Linked DNA regions of Homo sapiens: region 1 is linked to region 2. Evidence: fine-mapped expression QTL. A gene starts in region 2. The other region holds a variant in brackets. All regions are shown on one strand. Distances are between the middles of the regions.

Region 1 (14,177 bases), 33 kb after region 2:
GGCACAAATCCTTTTGCCACTGTCAAGCTTCGTCCCACCATCACCAATGACCGCTCAGCACCCCTCATCCGCTGAGGCGGGGTCCGAGGTCGTACCCCACAGTGCACCTGCCCAGGGGCTGTTCAGAGCTGGCAATGGCAGCGACAGCAGCAACAGCAGCAGATCCAAGAAGCGGGTCCCTGAGACGGGGGGTGGCTGCCCTCCCCAGACCACCCCGGCAGCCTGAGCAGCTCCAAAGCACTGGCTTGGGGTCCGAGACCTTCAAAGTAAAGCAGGCGGAATGGGGGGACAGGACAATTTCTCCCCCTCCAGGGGCTCCAGGACTCTCCCTGGGGGGCCCACCTCTTGCCCCCTAACCTCTTTCCCCCTTTTCTGCCCCCGTGGGGAGGAGCCCCTTGTACCTGCTCCGTGCCCAACACATGCCCTCTCTGTACATCTTTTGTAAATGATGAGAAATAAAGGAAGTGGACGCAAAGTGATGCGGCAGCAGGACTGGTGGTGTCTTATTTGGGGGACAGGGCAGGGGGTGAGGGATAGAGACTCCCCCATTGGAGAATGGGGTCTAGGGGGTACTGAGGTCCTGGCTGTTCCCCGGGAAGCCATCTCACTCCCAGCCCCTTGTTTGTTTGTTTGGAGAACTCTTTAGGGCTGCCCCAAAGCCCTCGCGCTGCAGCCCCCATCTCCACCTGCTCTCATTTCGACCTGTGGGTTTCCTAGGAAGTAGCGGCTGCTCGGGTCAGGGGAGAGGTGGCAGTGGCCAAGGGCTGGGACCACCAGCAAGCTGCCCTCAGGCGGCCTGGACACAGCACCCTTTGTTTTGGCCCCTCCCCCCCCCACATTCCCAGGCACAGGCGTGGATTAGCTTCATTCTAGAGAAAGCTGCCAGCCCCTCCTGGAATGTGGCCTGGGGCGGGGGGTTGGGGCGGGGGCAGATGAGGCACTGAGGTGATTAGAACCGTTGGGGTCTCTTCAGGGCAGGGCTGTGCCCCCAGCACCAGACTAGGACCCCCTGGGCAAGGTCTCTGTGTCTACCACCCCAGGCTCCAGGAGGCACAGGGATTCTCTTCCTCCCTCCTGGACTGGCTTGGGACAGGGAGCCCACCGCCGAGGCCCAGCCTGGCCTGGGGCTCCCAGTCTCTTCTCCCCTCCTGGACAAAAGCCTCTTAGCAGGGGTGAGGTGTGGTGGGGGCACACACTCTAAGCTCCAGGCCTGGGGCAGGGAGCGTCAGGCGGGAGTCGGCCAGAGGCTCAGCCCAGGCTGGTGGGAAGCTGGGGTGTCTGGCAGCCCCCATCCGGGTAAGCTTCACCGGGAGCTGCGGCGGCGGCCCCTCCCTGCAGGCCTCAGGAGATGTGAGGCTGGACCCCCAAACCCACGAGGCAGGCTCAGGTGAGTGTGATGTGAGGGCTGCCTGGGATCACCCTCCTGTCTCCACCTTCAAGTGGCTGCCCCTGTGACAAGAGGACAACAGGCAGGAAAAGCCACAACCTGGTCCTAGTGGAGGAGGGGCAGAGTCCCGGATACCCTGGGGGTGGTGGCACTGCCCAGTGCCAGGAGGGACACTCCAGGCAGGAGGGCAGGAGGCTATCCCCAGCCCCCGGCTCCTGGTGCACCTGTCTCTGAGTACACCCTCCTCATCTGTTATGGGGGCGCTTGTAACTGCTGTGAGGGCCCCGGGTGGAGCCCCAGGAATGAGACAGGCTTTGGAGCCATTCTTTTCATATAGAGGGTTTGAGGTTTGGAGGGCAGAAGGCCACTCTCTCAGTGCTGCTAAGGTTCCTACCTGTCTGGCAGAAGCCAGAGACCTGACTCCTCTCCCGCAAGATTCCCAGCTGGCCTCGGGGTGATCAATCACCCATCTTACATCGGAGGAAAGGGAGGTTGGGAGAGGGGAGGCGACCGGCCCAAGTCAGGGAGGGAATCCATGGCTGAGCTGAGATGCATGGGAACTCAGCTCCCCTGGCTGATATCTGTTGAAAGTGGCTTTTGTCCCCTTAATGTTCTAATGACAATAGTCATTTGTGATCACTGAGAAACATTAGGAACATGGCGGAAGGCTAAAGAGGAAAATCACGCACAGCGGCCCTTTGCAGCCGGCATCTGCCCCTCTGCTGTTTGTTCTGTTGTCCCGAGACCCTCACGCGTACGGGGCGACTTTGGTGCTGGACGCCCACCTCCAGGCACATACCTGCTCCACTTCCCGACGCCTTCCACCTGAGGCCCTGAGGGGCCAGCAGTTGTCCTTCAGAGGGAGCCTGCAGAGGTGCAGAGTCAGGTGGGACCCGTCGTCCTCCCCTCGTCCTTCAGCGCCCTTTGCAGGAGAAGGAGACTTGGGGTGAGAGTCCTACCTCCGTTTCCCCTTTTGGTTCCCAGACCTGAGCCACCCTCACGTGGGTAGCCCTGTGCCTCAGTTTCCCCATGCTTCGTCTCCATCCCCCTCCTTCTCTAGGCTGCTGGCCCAGCCCCTCCCTCTTGTCCCCGCCCCCTCCCAACAGAGGCAGCGATGGGCGCTGGCGGCCCCCGGCGGGGCGAGGGCCCCCCAGACGGCGGCTGGGGCTGGGTGGTGCTGGGCGCCTGCTTTGTGGTCACCGGCTTCGCCTACGGCTTCCCCAAAGCCGTGAGCGTCTTCTTCCGCGCGCTCATGCGCGACTTCGACGCCGGCTACAGCGACACGGCCTGGGTGTCCTCCATCATGCTAGCCATGCTCTACGGCACGGGTCAGTGTCCCCGCCCGGCCCTCCGCCTCCCCGGGACCCCTGGGATCCGGAACCAGGAGACACCCGAGCCCCTGAGCATCCCCCTGACCCTCGGGGTGGCCCCCGAAGTCCCTTCCTGCCTGTGGGAACCCTGGCACCAGAAAGAGGGGAAGAGAGGGCGGGAGGGAGACAGCGGCCAGAGGCGGGGCCGGCCCAGGGGGCTGCCCTGCGAGCTCAGAGGGCCCCTTCTAAGACCACACCCGCCCATTGTAGAGGCAGGAAAGCTGAGAGCCACAGAAGCACTCCCCCTCCCCGCAGCCCTGACCTGTAGGTGGGGGCTTGCTGGAGTTCCCATCCTGGGAGGCGGGGCTGCGGAGGAATCCCAGTCTGTGCCAGGGCGGGACTTGGAGGCTGTGAAGGTTAAAGGGGTGCGGAAGCCCCCGCTCCGCTTGGGGTTTGGGTTCGCAGGATGGGGTGCTCTGGGCCTTGCCCTCGCAGGATGCTGTCTCTTTGGCCTGTCCCCTCCAAGCTGTGTGACCTTGGCCAGACACTGCCCTCCTCTCTGTGTCCCTGAGCCGGAGGTGACCTTATTCCTTAGAGGACTCAAGCCATCCCGGGACCCGGGTGGTGACCCTGCCCTGCCCACAGGCCCCGTGTCCAGCATCCTCGTGACCCGCTTTGGCTGTCGCCCGGTGATGCTGGCGGGTGGGCTGCTGGCTTCCGCGGGCATGATCCTAGCTTCCTTTGCCACGCGCCTCCTGGAGCTCTACCTGACCGCTGGGGTGCTCACAGGTGAGGGCCCCCTGGTCTCCTCTCCGCTGGGTTGGGGGTCGGGGGTTCTTGCTGCAAGATCTGTCCTCGGTTTCCCTATGAGGGACAGTCTTCGAAGTCCCTCGGCTGGGTTCCCGGATCTGCTGGGTTCCCGGGCCTGGCCCCTCCCTCCTGTGGGGGCCAGGGAGGGGCTCTCCGGGGACCCCGGCACAGCACCGCCTCGCCCGCAGGCCTGGGCCTGGCCCTCAACTTCCAGCCGTCGCTCATCATGCTGGGGCTGTACTTCGAGCGGCGGCGGCCTCTGGCCAACGGGCTGGCGGCGGCGGGCAGCCCCGTGTTCCTGTCCGCGCTGTCGCCGCTCGGCCAGCAGCTGCTGGAGCGCTTCGGCTGGCGCGGCGGCTTCCTGCTGCTCGGCGGGCTCCTGCTGCACTGCTGCGCCTGCGGGGCTGTCATGAGGCCGCCGCCCGGGCCGGGCCCGCGACCGCGCAGGGACAGCGCCGGCGACCGCGCCGGGGACGCTCCGGGCGAGGCGGAGGCTGACGGTGCGGGGCTGCAGCTGCGCGAGGCATCCCCCAGGGTCCGGCCCCGCCGGCGCCTGCTGGACTTGGCAGTGTGCACCGACCGCGCCTTCGCCGTGTACG[C/T]CGTCACCAAGTTCCTGATGGCGCTCGGGCTCTTCGTCCCCGCCATCCTGCTGGTGAACTACGCCAAGGACGCGGGCGTGCCCGACACCGACGCCGCCTTCCTGCTGTCCATCGTGGGCTTCGTGGACATCGTGGCGCGCCCGGCGTGCGGCGCCCTGGCGGGCCTGGCGCGTCTGCGGCCGCACGTCCCGTATCTGTTCAGCCTGGCCCTGCTGGCCAATGGGCTCACAGACCTGAGCAGCGCACGCGCGCGCTCCTACGGCGCCCTCGTCGCCTTCTGCGTCGCCTTCGGCCTCTCCTACGGCATGGTGGGCGCGCTGCAGTTCGAGGTGCTCATGGCGGCTGTGGGCGCGCCCCGCTTCCCCAGTGCGCTGGGCCTGGTGTTGCTCGTGGAGGCCGCGGCTGTGCTCATCGGACCGCCCTCTGCCGGTGCGCCCCGAAGGAAGAGGGGGTGGCGAGCCTAGTGCCCCTTAGACCCAGGGAAGCTCCATCCCCCTGTCTCAGATGGAACTTCCAGGGATGAGGGGAAGGGGCAGTCGGGTGGGTGGACTCCCCTTCACGGCCAGTTAGTCCCTCCTCCAAGCCGGACCGCCCGCTCTGGGTGAGGACAGAAAAGCCCAGGAAGGTGCAGGGAAGAAAGCAACACTGGTAGCTGGCCAGATCTGCCATCCCAAGCAGTTGGCACAAGGCCATCTGGAGCGCAGGTGCTTATTCTCATTTTGCAGATGAGGAAACTGAGGCACAAAGCCTTAGCGCAAGTTGCAGCCCCAGAATGAGAGCCTCAGTGTACCTGCTGCTAAATGCCCACGCCTTTAGAATGGTGCATCTAGAATGGTGACTGGAATGGGGACAGTATCTTTGGGAAACTGGTGTTGGGGCCAGAAACAGAGTGGGGGTGCTCAGCGGGCAGATGGGGAGAAGCACTGGTGTCTTTCACTGTGCAGATGGCCTGCTGGCACTTGTCACCGTCACCCTTAGGAAGTCATCGTCATGAGGGTGGTCAGGGAAGGCTTCCTGGAATATCCCCCAGGTGAAGGCACAGCATGGATGGGCAGGGCTTGTTGGGGGGGAACAGCGTCCTTATGCAAGCAAGGCAGGAACCAAAATTGGAAAGGTGGGAGTGGGGGACATGAGGGTTTTCCTGGGTTGTCAAGTTATCTTGAAACAGCAAGGGAGCCTGCCTTTGAGTCCCAGAGGCTAGAGGGCTGTGAGATGGTGCAGTAACCAGGGAGGACACCTTGCGGGGGCCGCAGGCTGCACTGAGATGGGGTGAGCTGCTCGTCCTTCCTTCAGGGCTGGGCTAATCGAGTGCCCTCACTGAGCTCTGTCATCCCACCTGACCCAGTGAGAACGGCAAAGTCCCTGAGCCAGTGTGTGGGCAGGCCACAAAACCAGCCTGCCCAGGCCTCAAGGAACCGTCTTCCATTTCTTGTGTGAATCTGGATGGATCTGATGGGCAGAGGAGGTGCATGGGGTGAGGAGAATGACCTAGAGAGAGGGTGGAGCACACAGACAAACCACACTTTAGGGGGAAATACTTGCAATTAAGAGATTTTCCTGGTCGGGTGTAGTGGCTCATGCATGTAATCCCAGCGCTTTGGGGGGCTGAGGCCAGAAGTCTGAAACCAGCCGGGGCAACATGGCAAAACCCTGTCTCTACCAAAACAAAACAAAACAAAATTAGCTAGGTGTGGTGGCGTGCACCTCTGGTTCCAGCTACTCAGGAGGCTGAAGTGGGAGGATGGCTTGAGCCCAGGAGGTGGAGGTTGCAGTGAGCCAAGATGGCACCACTACATTCCAGCCTGGGCCAATGGAGTGAGACCCTGTCTCAAAAGAATAAGAAAATTCCTGAAGCCAGGTGCAGTGGTTCACACCTGTAATCCCAGCACTTTGAGAGGCCAAGTCGGGAGGATCCCTTGAGCTCAGGAGTTCAGGACCAGCCTGGGCAACACAGCAAGACCCCATCCCTAAAAAAAACATAATAAAAGAGAGACTTTCCTGAGTTTGAAAGTAGTATCTACAAGGGATAGAAGCCTTGAGAAATAGAGAAGGAAATGAGTTACTGGCCCACAAGCCCCACCTGTGCCGATGATGGCTTGGTCTGGGATGCTCATGGGCCTCCTGGGACAGAGGGGTGGGAGGACTAAGCCAAGCCCCTGAGGACCAGGGCATTTACATGGCAACAGCAAGAGGTGGAGGCCCCCAGGAGGGCAGAGCTAAGCCCAGGGCCCCCTCCCCGCTCCCACCCCAGATACCCCACTGCCAAGCAAGTCACAGGACACTTGTGGGGCTTGAATCAGAGGGTGGAGGGGACGCCTCACCAGAAGCCACATATCACTTAAGCAATTGAGGTCCAGGGACAGCAAGTGACATTTTTAAGGTTTCAAATGGCAGAATCCACATGAGGTTTTACATCTGTAAAACAGGAATAAAGAGTGGGCATGTGTGTGTCACCCAGGAGCCTCACCAAGTCAGTGGCACCACCCTTGACCTGAGAGTGCAGGAGAGTGAGGGGAGGACCCCACAGGACCTTACCTCTCCCTCCTCTTCCTCCTCCTCCCCAGGCCGCCTGGTGGATGTGTTGAAGAACTATGAGATCATCTTCTACCTGGCCGGCTCTGAGGTGGCCCTGGCTGGGGTCTTCATGGCTGTCGCCACCAACTGCTGCCTGCGTTGTGCTAAAGCTGCCCCGTCAGGCCCAGGCACTGAGGGCGGAGCCAGTGACACTGAGGACGCTGAGGCTGAAGGGGACTCTGAGCCCCTGCCTGTTGTTGCAGAGGAACCCGGCAACCTGGAGGCCCTGGAGGTGCTCAGCGCCCGGGGCGAGCCCACAGAACCAGAAATAGAGGCGAGGCCGAGGCTGGCTGCCGAGTCTGTATAACTCAGGGTGCTCTGGGTGGGGTGGCCCAGTGACTTGGGAACACAGCTTCTTGTCTCAGAGAGCCTGGTACGCTGGGAGGCTGGTCTGGGGTGGTCACTCCCGGGGTCCACGTCTGGGCTCCAGTTGATCCCCTGGGTGTCTGGGAACTGCCTCCCTCATCTGTGCCCCAAGTTCCGCCAGGCCCTGCCCCATCGCCAGTGAAGCTGCTATGGAGCAACAGGAAACTGGTGATAAAGCTCAGCTGAACGACAGAAGGTTCTATTCCTCCGCCCAGGCTCCGGCTGCCACCTGAGTTGGGGGTCAGGGTGGTGGGAGGGAGTCTGGGAGGTCTCTCTCCAGGCCCCCTAAGCAGGCTTCTAGGTGGGCAGTGTTGGGAGGAAGCGTCAGAGATGGATGAAGAGACCCATCGTTCCCAGGTGTAGAGACACAAGGGGCTGGGCGGGCACAGGGCTCAGGGGCACAGGGCTGGGTGGGCACAGTGCCTGGCTCCTGCCCAGCCCCACTGCTCAGAGCTGTCTGCTGAAGGCCCCCTCGCTGGCATCTGCCTTTTCCCGTGGAGGGAACGAGGGGTTGGCAGCAACTAGGGTTCAAGGTTGGGGTCTGCCTGCAGGCGGGGGGCCCGAGCGGTCTGAGAAGACTCACAGTTCCCAGGGTCAGGGTCGGTTTGAATCCCAGCCCCGCTGACTTCCTTGCTCACTGGAGGCTGAGCATACGACTCCGTCCCCTGGGGTCCTGGGGAGGGTGGGACCAGGCGCTCAGTAACACCATGGGCCCTGCTGCCTTCCACGAGGTGGCCATGTCCCCTCACCTTCCCAGAGGGCATCTCTCCCACTAGAGGATAAACTTGGGTGTCCAGGGCCAGGGGCTTTTGCTGTGGACACTGTGCTGGCAGCCAGGTCATCTGCTGATCCCAGCACCTGCCTTCTCCCCACGGAGCGTCCCACGATCTCCCTCACACTTTGACATCTGACCTCCTGCACTTGGATCCAGGTGCACGAATCTGGCAAGACGCGATGTATTCCCTCTATGCATTTATCCTCCTCCCATACATCACACCCCTCCTTTCTTTGCCTCCCTCCGAATCATGAGCGTGGTGAACAGGCCCCTGCAGAGGAAGCCGCCTTCCCTCCGCAAACTCCCCTCACCTTCCAGCCCGGCCCATAGTGACCCCTCCCCACTGGTCCCTGCTGGCCCTCATTTTCCATCTAGGCCCCAGGAAGGTCTGGGGAGCCCCACAGATGCCTGGCCGGCTTCTACTTATATGGCCTGTGGCTTCCCCTGCACCACTAGAGCAGTGACTGCGTTTGACTTTATTATTATTATTTTTTATTTATTTTTTTGAAATGGAGTCTCGCTCTGTTGCCCAGGCTGGAGTGCAGTGGCACAATCTCGGCTCACTGCAAGCTCTGCCTCCCAGGTTCACACCATTCTCCTGTCTCAGCCTCCCCAGCAGCTGGGACTACAGGCCCCCGCCACCACGCCTGGCTAATTTTTTGTATTTTTAGTGGAGACGAGGTTTCACCGTGTTAGCCAGGATGGTCTCGATCTCCTGACCTCGTGATCCGCCCGCCTTGGCCTCCCAAAGTGCTGGGATTACAGGCGTGAGCCACCGCTCCCGGCCCGTCTGACTTTATTTAAGATTTAAGAGTGCTTGCTCTGTGCCAAGCCCTGTTCTAAGCCCTCTCCAGATGTTCATTTAATCTCCTAACAAGCCAATAAGGTAGGTGCCACACTTCAGATAGGGAAATTGAGGCCCAGGGAGGTCAGGAACGAACCCAGGCTGTCAGTTCCAGCCTGTGCTCTTGGCCTCCACTCTGGCTGCCCCCTTCAGGGAGGCAGTGTGGTCTGTCTGATGGCTCTGCGGGGACCCAGGTGGGCTCCTGGTGACAGCCAGCCCCTCCTCCATGTCCCACCCCTGCCAAGCCTCCCATTTGGGTTTCTGCCCAGCAATGCATGCTCAAAGCTGATGCAGAAACCCTTTTTCCATCCTGGACTCAGCCCACCTCGCACACCCTGTTGCCCCCTCGCATTCTCAGGATGGCCATATTCATCGTCCAAACAGGAACACGTTAGAGTGACAAGGGCCACTATGACTGATTACACCAGGCCGAGGCTGGCCAGGAGAAGCAGGAGAAGTGGCCACCCTGTTTCTGCCACTCTGCAGACACTCCCCATGGCCTCTCCCCACGCCCCTCTTCCCACAGCCCCCGAGCACCTCTCCCCACACGCCTTTCCCCACCACCCGGGCAGCACAGGCGCGCCTGGAGTCAGCACTTACCCCTCACCACCCTCCCCTACTTGGGGGCTCAGTCGCCCTGGCTCCATGTCTGCCCTTCTCTCCCCCAGAGGTTTATTTCCTGTCGGAAGCACAGAAAGGTCACAGATTGGGGGCGGGGGAAGGGGGCGGGGGGTGAGATACAAAAGGTTCCACAAAGCAGAAAGCTTTGGAGGCAGGTGGCAAAGTCAGGCCTTCAGGACAGATCTGAGTTAAAACCCACTGTGTCCCCACACAGGGCGTGGCCTTGGGCAAGATCTTTCTCTGAGCCTCAAATCACCAGCTGTGAGGGGACCACAGTGCTAGCCCTGCAACACTTCAGTGAGGCATAAATGGTGCATAGCAAGGGCGCTGTCAATAGACGGTGGAGGGGAGGGGCAGACAAGGAGGGTCTGAAGCCACTGCGACCACTGCGCCATCCAGGTTTGTGTTTATTCGATACAGGCCCAGAACCCAGCCCTCCTTCAGAGAAGTGGCCGAGCTGGGGGAACAGAATAAATAAAGGCCGCCGAGGTGTGATGGGGACTGGACGGGCCGGTCTGGGGCGAGGCAAGGGTGCCCAGGAGGCATTGACCCCAACCTCAGCTGTCCACGGCTGGCCCCACTCCCAGCAGGCTCCGGGGGCAGTGTGAGCGCCCACAAGGAGCAGGGCTCGGACTCCTGCCACCTCCAAGTCCTTTCTTTTCCTTCCTGCCCTCCCTCTCCTTCCTAAGGCAGGTCCAGAGACCAAGCTCTCCCTCTGGCCGGGGAGCCGGGAGGGGAGGGAGGGTGGAGGGGCCAGTGTCCAGGTCCCAGGCCATGACCCTGGTGCCTGTCCTGGGCAGGAGCCCAGGTTCGCTGTGCGAGGACAGAGGAGCAGGGAGGCAGGCGCCCCAAGCCAGCAGGCCTTTATGCGTCGCCCCCTTGCGCGGCGGCCCCGCCCCGCTCCCAGGCTCCGTCCTCCCACGCACCCTGCCCCCGGCACCACAGCCGCGGGGCACTCAGGAGTCACACCAGCTTCCACCCTTGTCCAAGGGCCCAGCAGCCCCTCGTGTATCCCTGGACGGCTCCCCAGCTGCCGTGTCTTCCTCCTCCTCCTCCTCCTCCCCATCTGTGAACTCCTCCTGGTTGAGGCCATAGGCCAATGTGGTGTGCGCCAGGTCTACCTCGATGGGGAAGACGTCGGCATCCCGCAGCACTGCGTAGCAGTCGTTGTAGTACTTGGACATGGTGGACACGAGGCGCTGCAGCTGGAACACGATGTCCTGGACTGGGGTGGGAGGTCGGGGGACAGGCTGCAGTGGGCTCTGGCTGCCTGCCTCAGGGAGGAGACTCTCCCAGCCCACCCGGCCCACCTCTCGCCTCCCCTGGGCTTCCCACTCGGGCACTTCCCTGACCCCTCATGACCTGGCAAGGGGCGGAGGCAGGGGCCGCCCAGCCCGGGGCCTCCCCGCTCCCAGTTCAGGGAACGCAGGAGGCTGCAGGGTAAATGGATCATGGATGGCAGCCCACGGAGCCCACGCGCACAGGCCAGCTCCACCCAGGCCAGGCTCTGGGCAGATGGCTGGGCTCCTGGAGGGGCTTTACATCTGGGCCGTGGCCTGGCCCTGAGAGTACCCCTCTGGGCCTCAGTTTTCCCACCTCTGAAATGGAGAGCGGACGGGGAGGAGGGCGGCGCTCACCGTGCTTCTGGTCCAGCAGCTCCATCTTCTCCAGCACATCCTTGCGCATCTGGGAGAAGCGGGCGCGCGCCTCCTGGCGGCAGCGCAGGATCAGGCGGTACTCATAGTTGCCGGTGCTCACCCGGTAAAGGGGCTCGCCTAGGGCCTGGGGCGGGGGTGGGACAGGAGTGCCTGCTCAGGGACGGCCTCGCACCGCACTGTGCTTTCAAAGCCACGGCTGTTCTTCATTCCTGAGACCTCATTTCTGAGACTTCAGTGTTTCTCAGAAGCACTCAGTGATAGCTTTGAAGAGAGGAAAAAACCAAACCCAAACCTCTGCCACATTCAATGAACACTGGCCACGAAATGGATCCCGACAGCAGAAAAATCAAACACTTAAAAGCGCCTCATAGGAGTGAAGAAAATCCGATTTCCCTCCAAGAGTCCCCCAGACTGAGGGAGTGGTTCCCGGCCGGGTGCCCAGCACCCCGAGGCCCAGCGAGCGGGACTGGGAAGATGGCCCTAAATCTCCAGGAACGAGAGTCCAGCCAAGTCCCCCCGGTCTCTCCCGGGTTGGCCTGAGCCACCTGCTATCCCTGGCAGACCAGGTGGGGGGAAGTACAAGCCCCCCACCCCCTCCAACACTCACAATGCAGCTGTATTCCTCGTCATCCATCTCCTTCACCTTCAGGCAGTACGACTGTGTGGGACAGGTGAGGCTGTCAGAGTGGCTACTACCCCCACCCCAGGTCCCCAGCTCCACCCCCATCACCCACACGCAGCAGGAGAGGCTGGCGCAGGTGTTCAGGGAGTCCCAGAGCGGGCAGCGGCAGGTGCTGAGGGATGACAGGGCCTGAGGCTTAGGCGGCCGAGTTGACCAAACTCAAGGCCCAAGAGATGCTCTGGGGAAAAAGGGGTCTGTCGTTAAAGGAGCTTAGGAAGACCCTTGAAAATTCACACTGCACATCAGCCTAGCAAAGGCTCTGATAAGTCCTGCAGCAAAGGAACCTTGGCTTGCTTAATAGAGCATTTTCTCTCAATTCCTTTGACTGTAGAATAATTAAATGTAAAACTCACGAACGTTCACTGACACCCATTTTATGCTCACTCACCTAGTCTAACCCATTGTTTAAAGGCAACAAATCCCAAGGGGTCAGAGTGCACACAGCGAGAGCCATGCCCGCCCCAGGCTCTCAGATGCTTCTTTGTGCAGGCGCAGCAGGGCTTTGGCTGCACCTCCCTGGGCCTCTGGGCCCACACCTGGAGCAGACATGCTGTCAGCTCTGGCTGGCCTCGCTGGCCGCAGCATGGCTGACTGAAGTGGGGCAGATCTCCAGGGTGGGCGCTTGCCCTAGCAGCCTGGGCACCTGGACTACTCACCAGGTACTCAAACTTCACGTCCAGGTACTTCTTGATGGTGAGGCGAGTGTCCGGGATGGCTTTGTTGAGGTACGTGTTCAGATCCGTCAGCATCTGGAAGAGGGTGGGTGGATGCTGAGGCTGTCACGGCAGGGGTGTGCCAGGGTGACAATGAATGGCACTGATGCGTCACCCTTGTTGGTGGACTCGACTATCAGAGCCAGATGGTGCTCCCTGATGCCTTGTCCCTCTCAAGGATGAGAAGACTAGTGCCAGGCCTAGGGCAAGCTGTGACTCAGTGGCGAGCCAGGGTCAGAAGCCAGCCCAGAGGTCAATGGCAAGGCCCAAGGGGGCACAGTGACTCACCCACAGTCCACTGTGTGGGTGACTGAGCCAGAGGCTGTACCCAGGCACAGGACTCCAGCATACGACCTTCTCTGCATGCCACACTCTCCCCTCCCCACCCTCACACGCCAGACACACACATGCTCAATAGGACCTACCGGCTTGATGGTTTTCAGAAGCCGAATGCCGAACTTCTCGATGCTGCGGTGGGCATCGGCGAACTTCACAAAAGCCTCGCTCGCAGCTGGCTGGGGCTCCCGCACCCCGATCACGGAGAACACGTCCCCAAAGGCTGCAGGACAAGTTTGCCTTGAAGGCTGCCCCTACTTGGCCCCCTAAGAGAAGCCAGGGGTTTGTTGGGGAGAAGCAGGGCAGGGGGCCTGGCAGGCTGGAAGCCAATGTCTGCACAGGGGCTACACCTCCAAGAGAGCTGGTCTAAACCCCCTGAAGGAGCTGAGTCTACACCTGGAGGAAACTGGATTGACACCTCCAAGAGCTGGTCTGTGCCCCCTAGAGTCCTGAGTGTACACACCAAGGGAGTTGGCCCTCATTCCCCAGAGGGACCAGTGAGAGAAGACTGGGTCAAGGTTTGTGGAGGTGGCGCCGCCTGAGGCAGAACACTGGTCCGAGTCTAGACACCTGGATTGGAACAACAGCTCCACCACTTGGGAGCAGTGTGGCCCTCTCCTTTGTCTGGGCTTCATTTTCTGCAGTAGCTGGGGTCAGCTGCAGTCGGCCTGCCCAGAGTTACAGGTTGTCAGAAATATAAATAAGCAAGGGCCTTGTGTACTGCCAGTGGCAGTGTGAGGAGACAGGGTGGGGCCTGTTCATCGTTGCGGCCCTTAAGAGACCAGCTGATCTAGATGTTCCCCGCAGGCCCATCGCAAATCCCAGCACCTGGGACCAGGCCCAGCCCAGAGGGAGCCTGAGGTCAGGCGCTGTGGGTCTGACCCACCTCAGCATGGGAGTGAGAGGCCCCAGGGATTGCCCACGGTCACACCACAGCTTTGGGGGATGCCATTACCCCGGTGAGTCTGCGACAGCTCATAAAAGGCCCGTAGGAGGTTCTTGGTGTGTTCCGTCATCCCTGTGGGAGAGACCGAGTGATGCGGAATGGGGACGCATGGCGGGGACCACACTGGCCCAGGGCAAGGCCTCCAATTGCCCATGCCACCCAAGGCCTCTGCTAGGCCCTGATACATGGCCTTTCCCCACCGCCCAACCACAGCCCAGGGGTAAAAGCTCAGTCCGACCCAACCCGTGAGGAGCCCCATCAGACAGGGGCGCCAGCATTTTGTAAGATGCAGGGGTACACAGCCTGCTGTGGGCTTTAGCCCTGGGACAGTGTGGGATTCCGGGGGACTCTCGCTATGTTTACAAGTGCTATTCTCTGAATTTTTATGAGTATCAGGTTTTGTTTTTTTTGAGATAGGGTCTTGCTCTATTGCCCAGACTAGAGTGCGGTGGTGTGATCTTGGCTCACTGCAACCTCTGCCTCCCTGGTTCAAGCGATTCTCATGCCTCAGCCTCTCGAGTACTGATTATAGGCACACACCATCATGCCTGGCTAA
Region 2 (8,528 bases):
TGAGATCTGGAGTGCATGGGTTTTATGCCAGTCCCTTGTGCCACTGGGCCGCCCTCCTTCCCCGCCCCTAGACCAGCTGGTGTGGCGGGCGGCCCGAAGCAGCGGGGCAGCTCCTACTTACTTCCGACCCAATGGGCGCTTCCTGGACGGTGGGCTGCTGGCCAACAACCCCACGCTGGATGCCATGACCGAGATCCATGAGTACAATCAGGACCTGATCCGCAAGGTGAGTGCCGTAGGCCAGAGGGCCTGGACCCACTGCTCCCTGGAGCCAATCCTGTGTCAGCAAACCATGCTAGGGACCGACCCCCAGGACAGCAGGTGGCTTTTACACACGCACTCATTCATATGTGCACACAGGGCAAATTGATCTCACTGGAACCTGTTCCATGGGTGGGATCTGCCTGAAGCACTGTGCTAAGGGGGATCTGAGGACCACTGTGCTCTAAGTGTGCATGAGTGGGGAGGGCGGCATGCATACCATGAACGTGCCACTCGAGCCAGCCTGGGGACAGGACACATGCTTGCCCTTGAGCTCACCTCTGTGGATAGACAGTCCCACAGGAATGCCTGTCCCCACGGGTTGCCGGTGCTGTGGTGGAGGACCGTGAGGCCTCTGCTAAAAGGCCTGGGGGCTCGGAAAGGGCTCCATGGAACAGGGGACCCATCCTGAGGCCCTTGGGGACAGAGCAGTGCAGAATCAGTGATCTGGAGGAAGAGCAGCAGCCCTCTCTCTGCAGAGGTACAGCAGAGGCTGGCAGGACCCAGCATGCTAGGGGAGGCCCTGTGGCGTGGCGGGCGGTGGGTGACCGGGGTGGGCGAGCGCGGTGGCTGAGCTCAGACCCTGGAGCCAGGGCGCCTCTGGGGGTCCCCGTTCTGCCTGCACTCACTGCAGCTACCTAATGGGGCCATCATAGCGCCTGCCTGGGGAGGCTGCGAGGCCTTGGCATGCTGTTGTCTGTGAAATGTTCACAGCACTGCCGGGAGCCTGAGCTGCATCCTTGCTGCTGTGGTTTCCCGAAGCCCCAGGGCGTCCTGGGCAGCGCAGCAGAGGCTCTGGGCAGACAGAGAAGCGCCCTCTAGGGGCCAGATCGGGCAGGGCGGGCTTCCTGCAGGCGGCAGAGACCGTCAGACTGTCAGACACTAGCCAGTCTAACTCTCCTATTGCGTGCGGATGGGGAGCCTGGGACCCAGAGTGGGAGGCATCACCCAAGATCATCCAGCAAATCGGCAGCAGAGCTTGTTCGGAAGCAAATAAGAGAGGCAGCGGCCGGGCGCAGCGGCTCACGCCTGTAATCCCAGCACTTTGGGAGGCCGAGGCAAGTGGATCATGAGGTCAGGAGATCGAGACCATCCTGGCTAACACGGTGAAACCCTGTCTCTACTAAAAATACAAAAAAATTAGCCAGGCGGGCATAGTGGCAGGAGCCTGTAGTCCCAGCTACTCGGGATGCTGAGGCAGGAGAATGGTGTGAACCCAGGAGGCGGAGCTTGCAGTGAGCCGAGATCGCGCCACTGCACTCCAGACTGGGAGACAGAGCGAGACTCCGTCTCAAAAAAAAAAAAAAAAAGGCAGCACCCAGGGCTCAGGTTCAAGCCTTAGCCCCTACTTCCCTACCACGTGGCCCCTGCAGCTGCTTCCCGGCCTGAGCTTCGCTGAGAGCCCTCATTTGCAAACTGGGTGATCAGTGCCCTCTCCACAGACTGGCTGGAGATTAAATGAAGTAATGATGCAAATACCTGGCAAATCACCAACACCAAGGAACACCGTCTGCCTTTCCTCCCCTGGCCACGACTTGACTTGGGCCAGCATCAGATGGGGTGGGCGGGATCCTTCTTGCAGCTGGTGTATGTGTGGTCCTGTTGGTACACAGATGCTGTCCTGAGCAGATGGCATGTGATGCCCGCACCAGCCGTTCTGGGGTCACGTGCAAGAGGCTGGCTGGAAATCATGCCAGGCATGCTCTTGCCACCAGAGACCTCTTGCCCTGTTCTCATGTGCCCCAGAGCCCAGTCTTGGGCCTCCCCTTGACGCTCCCCTTCGTGCCCCCTACCTGTGGAAGGTCTCTTCTGACTGCCCCTGTCCTGTTCCCAACAGGGTCAGGCCAACAAGGTGAAGAAACTCTCCATCGTTGTCTCCCTGGGGACAGGGAGGTCCCCACAAGTGCCTGTGACCTGTGTGGATGTCTTCCGTCCCAGCAACCCCTGGGAGCTGGCCAAGACTGTTTTTGGGGCCAAGGAACTGGGCAAGATGGTGGTGGACTGTGTGAGTGTGGGCCCCTCCCCCAGGCCACTTCCCTCAGGGTCTGTAGCCCAGGTCGATGGCTTCCCCTCATCCTGTGGGGCCTTTGGTGTTGGAGGAGACAGCAGGGCTCTGTCCATCGCCTTTAGCCAGCTGGAGGGAGAGAGAGTCCACAGTTCAGAGTCTCAGTGCGGGGCAGGGACCCTCAGTGACCACCAGCAGGGGGGTTTTCAAACGCTTTTTAGCTGCGGATCCCTTTCTGCAAACATAGCGCAGTGTAGAAGCCCAGAATGGACAAAGGCTCCAGAGCGGGCTGGGCGCTCACCCTGTAATCCCAGCACTTTGGGAGGCCAAGGCAGGCGGACCACTTGAGCACAGCAGTTTGAGACCAGCCTGAGCAATATAATGAGACTTTGTCTCTACCAAAAAATTAAAAACTAGCTGGACATGGTGGTGTGTGCCTGTGGTCCCAGCTACTCAGGAGGCTGAGGTGGGAGGATTGCTTAAGCCCAAGAGGCAGAGGCTGCAGTGAGCTGTGATCATGCCACTGCACTCCAGCCTGAGCAACAGAAGGAGACCTTGTCTCAAAAAGAAAGAAAGAAAGAGAGAGAGAGAGAGAGAGGAGGGAGGGAGGGAAACTTCAGGGAGAGGGGACATGGAGGCCTGTCGACTCAGCCGCTACCCTTTCCCCCACTCATCATCCCTGAAAGGGCACTGCTGAGACCTCTGCCCCTCTGATTGCACAGCTGGGACAGTCCCTGCAGTCCCAGGAAGGGGTTTTGCCCGAGCCGCTCTGCTGCTGTGTGGCTCAGCCTGACTCGAAAGAGCCTGGGGCTCCCCAGGCTGGGGCTCCGAGAGTGCAGGGCAGGGCCGGGCGGGGTGCGGGCCGGGCGGGGTGTGGGCCCGGCACTCACCAAGGCTGCTTCTCACCAGTGCACGGATCCAGACGGGCGGGCTGTGGACCGGGCACGGGCCTGGTGCGAGATGGTCGGCATCCAGTACTTCAGGTGAGGGCTCAGCCGCCCCAGCCCTTGGCCCCGTGCCCTGGCGTGGTCGGACTCACCGACCTTCCCCTCCCAGCCCTAGTGTGGACTTTCCCTTCCCCAAGGGTCTGCTCTGTTCCCCAAGCCCACCCTGGTCCTAGCTGGCGTCCCCTGCCCAGCCTGAGCATCCTAGGGTGACCCCCTCCTCCCTGGCCCGAACAGATTGAACCCCCAGCTGGGGACGGACATCATGCTGGATGAGGTCAGTGACACAGTGCTGGTCAACGCCCTCTGGGAGACCGAGGTCTACATCTATGAGCACCGCGAGGAGTTCCAGAAGCTCATCCAGCTGCTGCTCTCACCCTGAGGGTCCCCAGCCTCTCACCGGCCCCAGCTGACCTCGTCCATTCAGCCCCTGCCAGGCCAAGCCCAGCCACTGCCCTCCCGGGCAGATCTGGGCCCAGGCACCTCTGAGTCCATAGACCAGGCCTGGGAGAATGCCAAGCTGCCTGCCCGAGGCTGGTCCTGAAGGCCTGTCTCCCACTAACCCCGCCTTCCAGCACTTTCTGTCATTCCAGGCTGGGAAAGTCTAGAGCCCCCTTTGGCCCCTTTCCCTGACTGTCAAGGACAACTGACTCCCCCATCAGCTCAAACATTAAGGGTACCCGGGCACAACCGTACCCCTGCCCCCAGCCCCAGCCTCCCTGAGGGCCTGCCGGGCTGCCTCTGCCCCAGCCCCCAGCAAGGGCACTCCCAGGCTTCCTGGTGGGTGCAGCCCACTCCCTCTGCCCTCTGCTCCGTTCCCTGGGGGCTGGGACTAAAGAAATGGGTGTCCCCCACCCCATCAGCTGGGAAAGCCCAGGCCGCAGGAGTGGGATGCCCGTTGGACTTTGCCCCTCACACTGGCCCAGCCCCTCACACTGCCCCACCCCGAGAACCCTCAGCTCTCAAAGGTCACTCCTGGGAGTTTCTTCTTCCCAATGGAAGTGGCTTAAGAGCCAAAACTGAAATAAATCATTTGGATTCAAGTTCACCTGTGTTGTGTGTGCAGTGGTGTGAGATCCACCTGTTCCCCTGACCCCCGGCTCCCCTCGGCCTTGACCCTTGGCCTTGACCGGACTTTTCCTTTGTACCCGGACACTCTGTTTTCCAGGATCCCTGGGCAGGGACACCTCCTCTTTCCTCTAGGCCTCCCCTAAACCGGCCCTTAGGGTATGCAGAGGCAGCTGCCAGGCCCACATACCCCCGGCAGGCCCAAGGAGGGCCACAATCTTCAACTTCATCTTGGAGGACCAGGGAGAGCCCCATTTGTCACCCAGAGAGGCCGGGGACTCCGCGTGGACAGGCAGCGCGTGTGCAGGGCCGAGGTCTGCCCAGGGCTGGGCAACTCCAGCGTTTGTGCTGCTCCTGCTCCGGCAAGTGGAGGAGCTGGGCGGGCCAGAGCGGCTGTGGGAGCCAAGCTCAGAGGGCGTGGCCCCACTGTGAGCCGCAGGCCTGAGGACAGTGAGAAGTAAAGCGGCGTTCCCCTCCAGGGGCTGCTGCTGCTGGGTCTGGCAGAGAGAGTCCTGGGGGAGGGCATCGGGCAGCGCCCGCCCAGTAAGGTGGGCAATGCCTGGTATAGGCAGGTGGGAGGGCGGGGCCCCCCAGGGTTGGGGTCCTTGAGGAGGGGGTGACCCAGGAGGGGGCTCATCCACATGGGCACTTGTATCAGCCCACAGCTCCAAGGGGTGAATAATTGAAGGGCAGGTCACACGAGCCTGCCCGGCACAGGATGCCTTCCCTGCCGGATCTGGTTACGCCCCAGATCACATTCTGACATCCCGAGTTGGTGAATAATTAAGCTGCCACTCCTCTGAGGCAGGCCTCCATCTCCAGGTCCCTCTCCGAGGCTTCCTCGCTGCCAGCTGAGTCGTGGGCACCTGAGGGACTACCTACCACTGCTCCCGGCTGTGCCATCGCCACCAGCTCCCAGCCTCCTGCTCAGACCCGGGACAGCCCCTCCATGGCCCCCGAGATGGACCAGTTCTACAGGTCCACCATGGCCATCTACAAGGTGAGCACATGGGTGGCCAAGCCAGGCCTGAGCCCCTCCTCCCAGGGCACAGAAATCAGGCCCGCTCTGGAGGACGGAGGGCCAGCCGGGGCTACAGATGTCCTGGAAAGGGAAGCCTGGAGCCAGGCTGGGCCAGGGGTGGGTACGGGGGTAAGGATCCCCGAGAGCACTCAGCCATACAGCGGGAACCCCCAACTCCCAGATGCTGGACAAGGCAGGAGGGAGCCCAAGGCCCAGGGTGGGGAGAGTTGAGTCTGGATGAGAAGGGCCTGGCTGCCCGGCCTGGGAATAAAGAAAGACCCTCCCTCTCTCTCTCTGTCTCTCCCTCTCTCTCTCTCTCTCTCTCTCTCTCTCCCTCTCTCTCTCCCTCTCTCTGTCTCTCTCTCTCTCTGTCTCTCTCTCTCTCTGTCTCTCTCTCTCTCTCTGTCTCTCCCTGTCTCTGTCTCTCTCATTTCTGAGCCCCTCAGACTTCCTACTTCACCCCCGGGGGGTTGTTGCAGCCGCCACAGACATTTATTGAGCGCCTCCTGTGTGCAGGACCCTTTCACCTGGAGGCCTCACACCACCCACCTGTGAGGTGGAAAATGACCACCCTGCTTGATAGATGAGAAAACTGAGACCAAAGAGGTTAAACAGCTCATTCAAGGTCACGGAGGGAGGAAGAGGTGCTGCTGGGATTTGAACCGAGACCCAAGTCCAAGTCCAGGCCCAAGTCCAGGCCCGTCTTCACCATCCGGGGAGCTCTCTGCCCGGCCCCAGCCCGAGGAGGCCCACACTAATCCAGCCACAGCCTTGCCCATGGGGGGCTGTTCTCGGAGGAGGGCGAGAGCTGCCCTTGCCCCGGGGGTGACTGTTGGCAGCCCCAGGCGTGTAGCCCGGCAAGGCCTGGACACAGGGCAGGGCTGAGCCGTGCCCAGTGGGGACCACAGCAGGCGGGCCAGCTTCTGCCCAGCGGGAGGAGGAGAACCTTCCAGGTGCACCATCTCGGGAGGCACCTCGGTCCCGCCAGAGCAGACGTAAGCGGGAGCTGGCTGTGAGGGGACCACAGCTTAGAACAGGACCCCAAAAGATGGGCTCTGAGGTCCCTGCAGCCAAGAGCCAGGATTCTGGGTGAGCCTAGGTTTGTAGATGGGCCCCCCAAAGTCTGGGGCTTCTCACTGGGCTGGGGGTGCCCTGTCCCTGACGCCTGGTGACTTGACTCCATCCGTGGTTCCTTCTCGCTCCCCCATCTCTACACCTTTTTCCTCCCCTGACCCTGGGGTCCAGAGCATCATGGAGCAGTTTAACCCCGCCCTGGAGAACCTGGTGTACCTGGGCAACAACTACCTGCGTGCCTTCCACGGTGAGTGCCTGCCCGGGCCACCGAGCCCCAGCCCTGGGCCTCTGCTGTTCCCACCCACCCAGGCCCCTCCCAGATTCTCTGCATCCCACACCTGTTCATCCTCAACCCTACACCCTCCTACCCACCACCCTCACCCTCACACCTCTGCAGCCAGAGAGGCCTTATGCACCCCCACTCTCCTGTGCCCACGCACCCCAGTCCACACCCAGCACCCCTCATTGCCCCCTCCTTCAGGTGCCTCCAGACACTCCCATGATGCAGTACCAGGCCCTGCAGGCCCACACAGCCCCAGGGCAGCCCCTGACAGTGCATACATTTCTAGGCGTCACCTGGATGCCACCAGCTGAACCCACCCCTATACTCAGTCCCACCTCTGCACCCAGGCTCACACAGCAGCTGGCTTCCTCACTTCAACTGGCCACCACCCACACACCCTGCAGCTGGCCTTGACATTCACTCGGTCCCCGTGCAAACCCTTGTACCCGTCCGCTGTGGCCGCTCATACCTGCCAATAGCACCCCACTACCCACCAGTGCTGATCAACCCTGAACCTCAGGGCCTCCCATCCCCCTGCTTCTTAGATGCTTTCCACGCCACCTCCCTGCCCCCAGCCCTCACCTTATGCCCCTGCACCTGAGTTTCACAGCTCAACTGGTCACACCCTCCTCAGGGGCACACACAGATGCCCACACCCCACCCAGGACAGACACAGTCCCCTCCAGATGAAAAGAGCCTCCAGAAGGGTGGGGCAGAGGCAGGGCTGGACCAGACCTGTCCCTTCTGGTCCACAGCTCTGTCCGAGGCGGCCGAGGTCTACTTCAGTGCCATCCAGAAGATTGGGGAGCGTGCCCTGCAGAGCCCCACCTCACAGATTCTGGGTGAGGCTCCCCCTCCACAGCAGACCCCATTCTTGGGCCCTCCTTTTGCACCCTTGCCCTTCCAGGATGTCCCGAGTCCCTGACACAGGCCTTTCAGCCCAGGGCCCAGAGCCAGACTCTTGTTCTGGGGCCCAGGCTCCCCGCCACCACTCCCTGCCGGGCTGCTCCCAGGCTGGGACACACATGGCCTGGCTCCCAGAGAACCATATGGGAAGTTCCCGGACTTTGGTCCCAAAATCCAGTCTCGGGCAGGCCCTCTGTTGGCTTTCAGCGGAAGAGGGTGGTGGGTGGGCGGGGCAGGCTGCCACACACCAAAGCCACAGCTGCATCCATGCCTCCAGGGGAGATCTTGGTGCAGATGTCTGACACCCAGCGGCACTTGAACTCTGACCTGGAGGTGGTGGTGAGTATCAGGCCCCAGGGCCTGGAGGGGTCACTCGAGGAAAGTGGGCTATGTTCCAAGGAGAGGGCCCAGCCTACCAGATGCCCTTCCCAGGGAGGATGACCGTGGCTGCCCTTCCCAGCACCCGGCTCTGTGGGGCACGGTTCCCTGCAATAGTCGTTCAAGCCTCTAGCAGCCCTAGGAGGCTGGTGGCATTTCTGCCTCCATTTTATAGAGGAAGAAACTGAGTCTCAAAGAGCTAGTCATTGCCTGAGATGCCAGAGTGAATGGAGGCCCAAGGAAGAGAAAGGTCCTTTCACTGCAGCCCTCCTCACTGCAGCCTCCCAGGGAGCAGCCACATGGACCTGACCATGTCACTCCCAGGAGCAGAACCGTTCCACGGCCCCACTGCCCGTAGAACTGAACACAGGCTTCTCAGTGAGGGGTCCCTGGCTCTGTCGATCCAGCAGCTTCTCCTGACACCCCCAACACAGCCCAGCCCCCCGGAAGAGTGGGCCCTCTGCTGGTGTCCCCGCTGCGGGGCTGCTGTCCTGCTGTCCTCTCAGCCTAGAGCCACCGGTCCCTCCCCCTGCCGTCCAGTTGGGAAGCAGCTGTCCCCTCCTTCCCAAAGCCTCCTCTGACTCCCTG

Direction of the effects. Positions count from the first base shown, and alleles are read on the strand shown. Sizes are in standard deviations (SD) of each study's normalised expression.
In carriers of allele C in region 1, the expression in gastroesophageal junction of the gene that starts at base 5,069 in region 2 tends to be lower than with T alone (small effect, 0.33 SD a copy in GTEx).

The links.
Region 1: its variant is fine-mapped to the expression of BAIAP2L2 in gastroesophageal junction (GTEx, PIP 0.93).

What each region holds. Positions count from the first base shown.
Region 1 is chr22:38,071,198-38,085,374 of GRCh38, reverse strand. It overlaps SLC16A8 (solute carrier family 16 member 8), which reads left to right and starts at 1,191. Exons shown (of 6, transcript NM_013356.3): 1 at 1,191-1,387; 2 at 2,014-2,333; 3 at 2,494-2,715; 4 at 3,343-3,486; 5 at 3,696-4,535; 6 at 6,671-7,238. The coding sequence starts at 2,502. The coding sequence ends at 6,987. BAIAP2L2 (BAR/IMD domain containing adaptor protein 2 like 2) reads left to right here. Exons shown (of 14, transcript NM_025045.6): 14 at 1-475. The coding sequence ends at 75. LOC105373027 (a long non-coding RNA gene) reads right to left here and starts at 6,734. Exons shown (of 3, transcript XR_938249.3): 1 at 6,642-6,734; 2 at 6,428-6,521; 3 at 5,008-5,762. It overlaps PICK1 (protein interacting with PRKCA 1), which reads right to left. Exons shown (of 13, transcript NM_012407.4): 8 at 13,631-13,693; 9 at 12,765-12,898; 10 at 12,283-12,375; 11 at 11,552-11,602; 12 at 10,924-11,068; 13 at 9,674-10,511. The coding sequence ends at 10,243. RefSeq lists enhancers at 926-1,707, 4,048-4,829, 9,914-10,415 and a silencer at 2,683-2,732. The variant C/T (reference allele first, on the strand shown) is at 4,107.
Region 2 is chr22:38,107,225-38,115,752 of GRCh38, reverse strand. BAIAP2L2 (BAR/IMD domain containing adaptor protein 2 like 2) reads left to right here and starts at 5,069. Exons shown (of 14, transcript NM_025045.6): 1 at 5,069-5,278; 2 at 6,545-6,620; 3 at 7,412-7,498; 4 at 7,840-7,901. The coding sequence starts at 5,228. It overlaps PLA2G6 (phospholipase A2 group VI), which reads left to right. Exons shown (of 17, transcript NM_003560.4): 14 at 72-226; 15 at 2,099-2,266; 16 at 3,176-3,249; 17 at 3,448-4,258. The coding sequence ends at 3,592. RefSeq lists enhancers at 808-987, 337-1,239.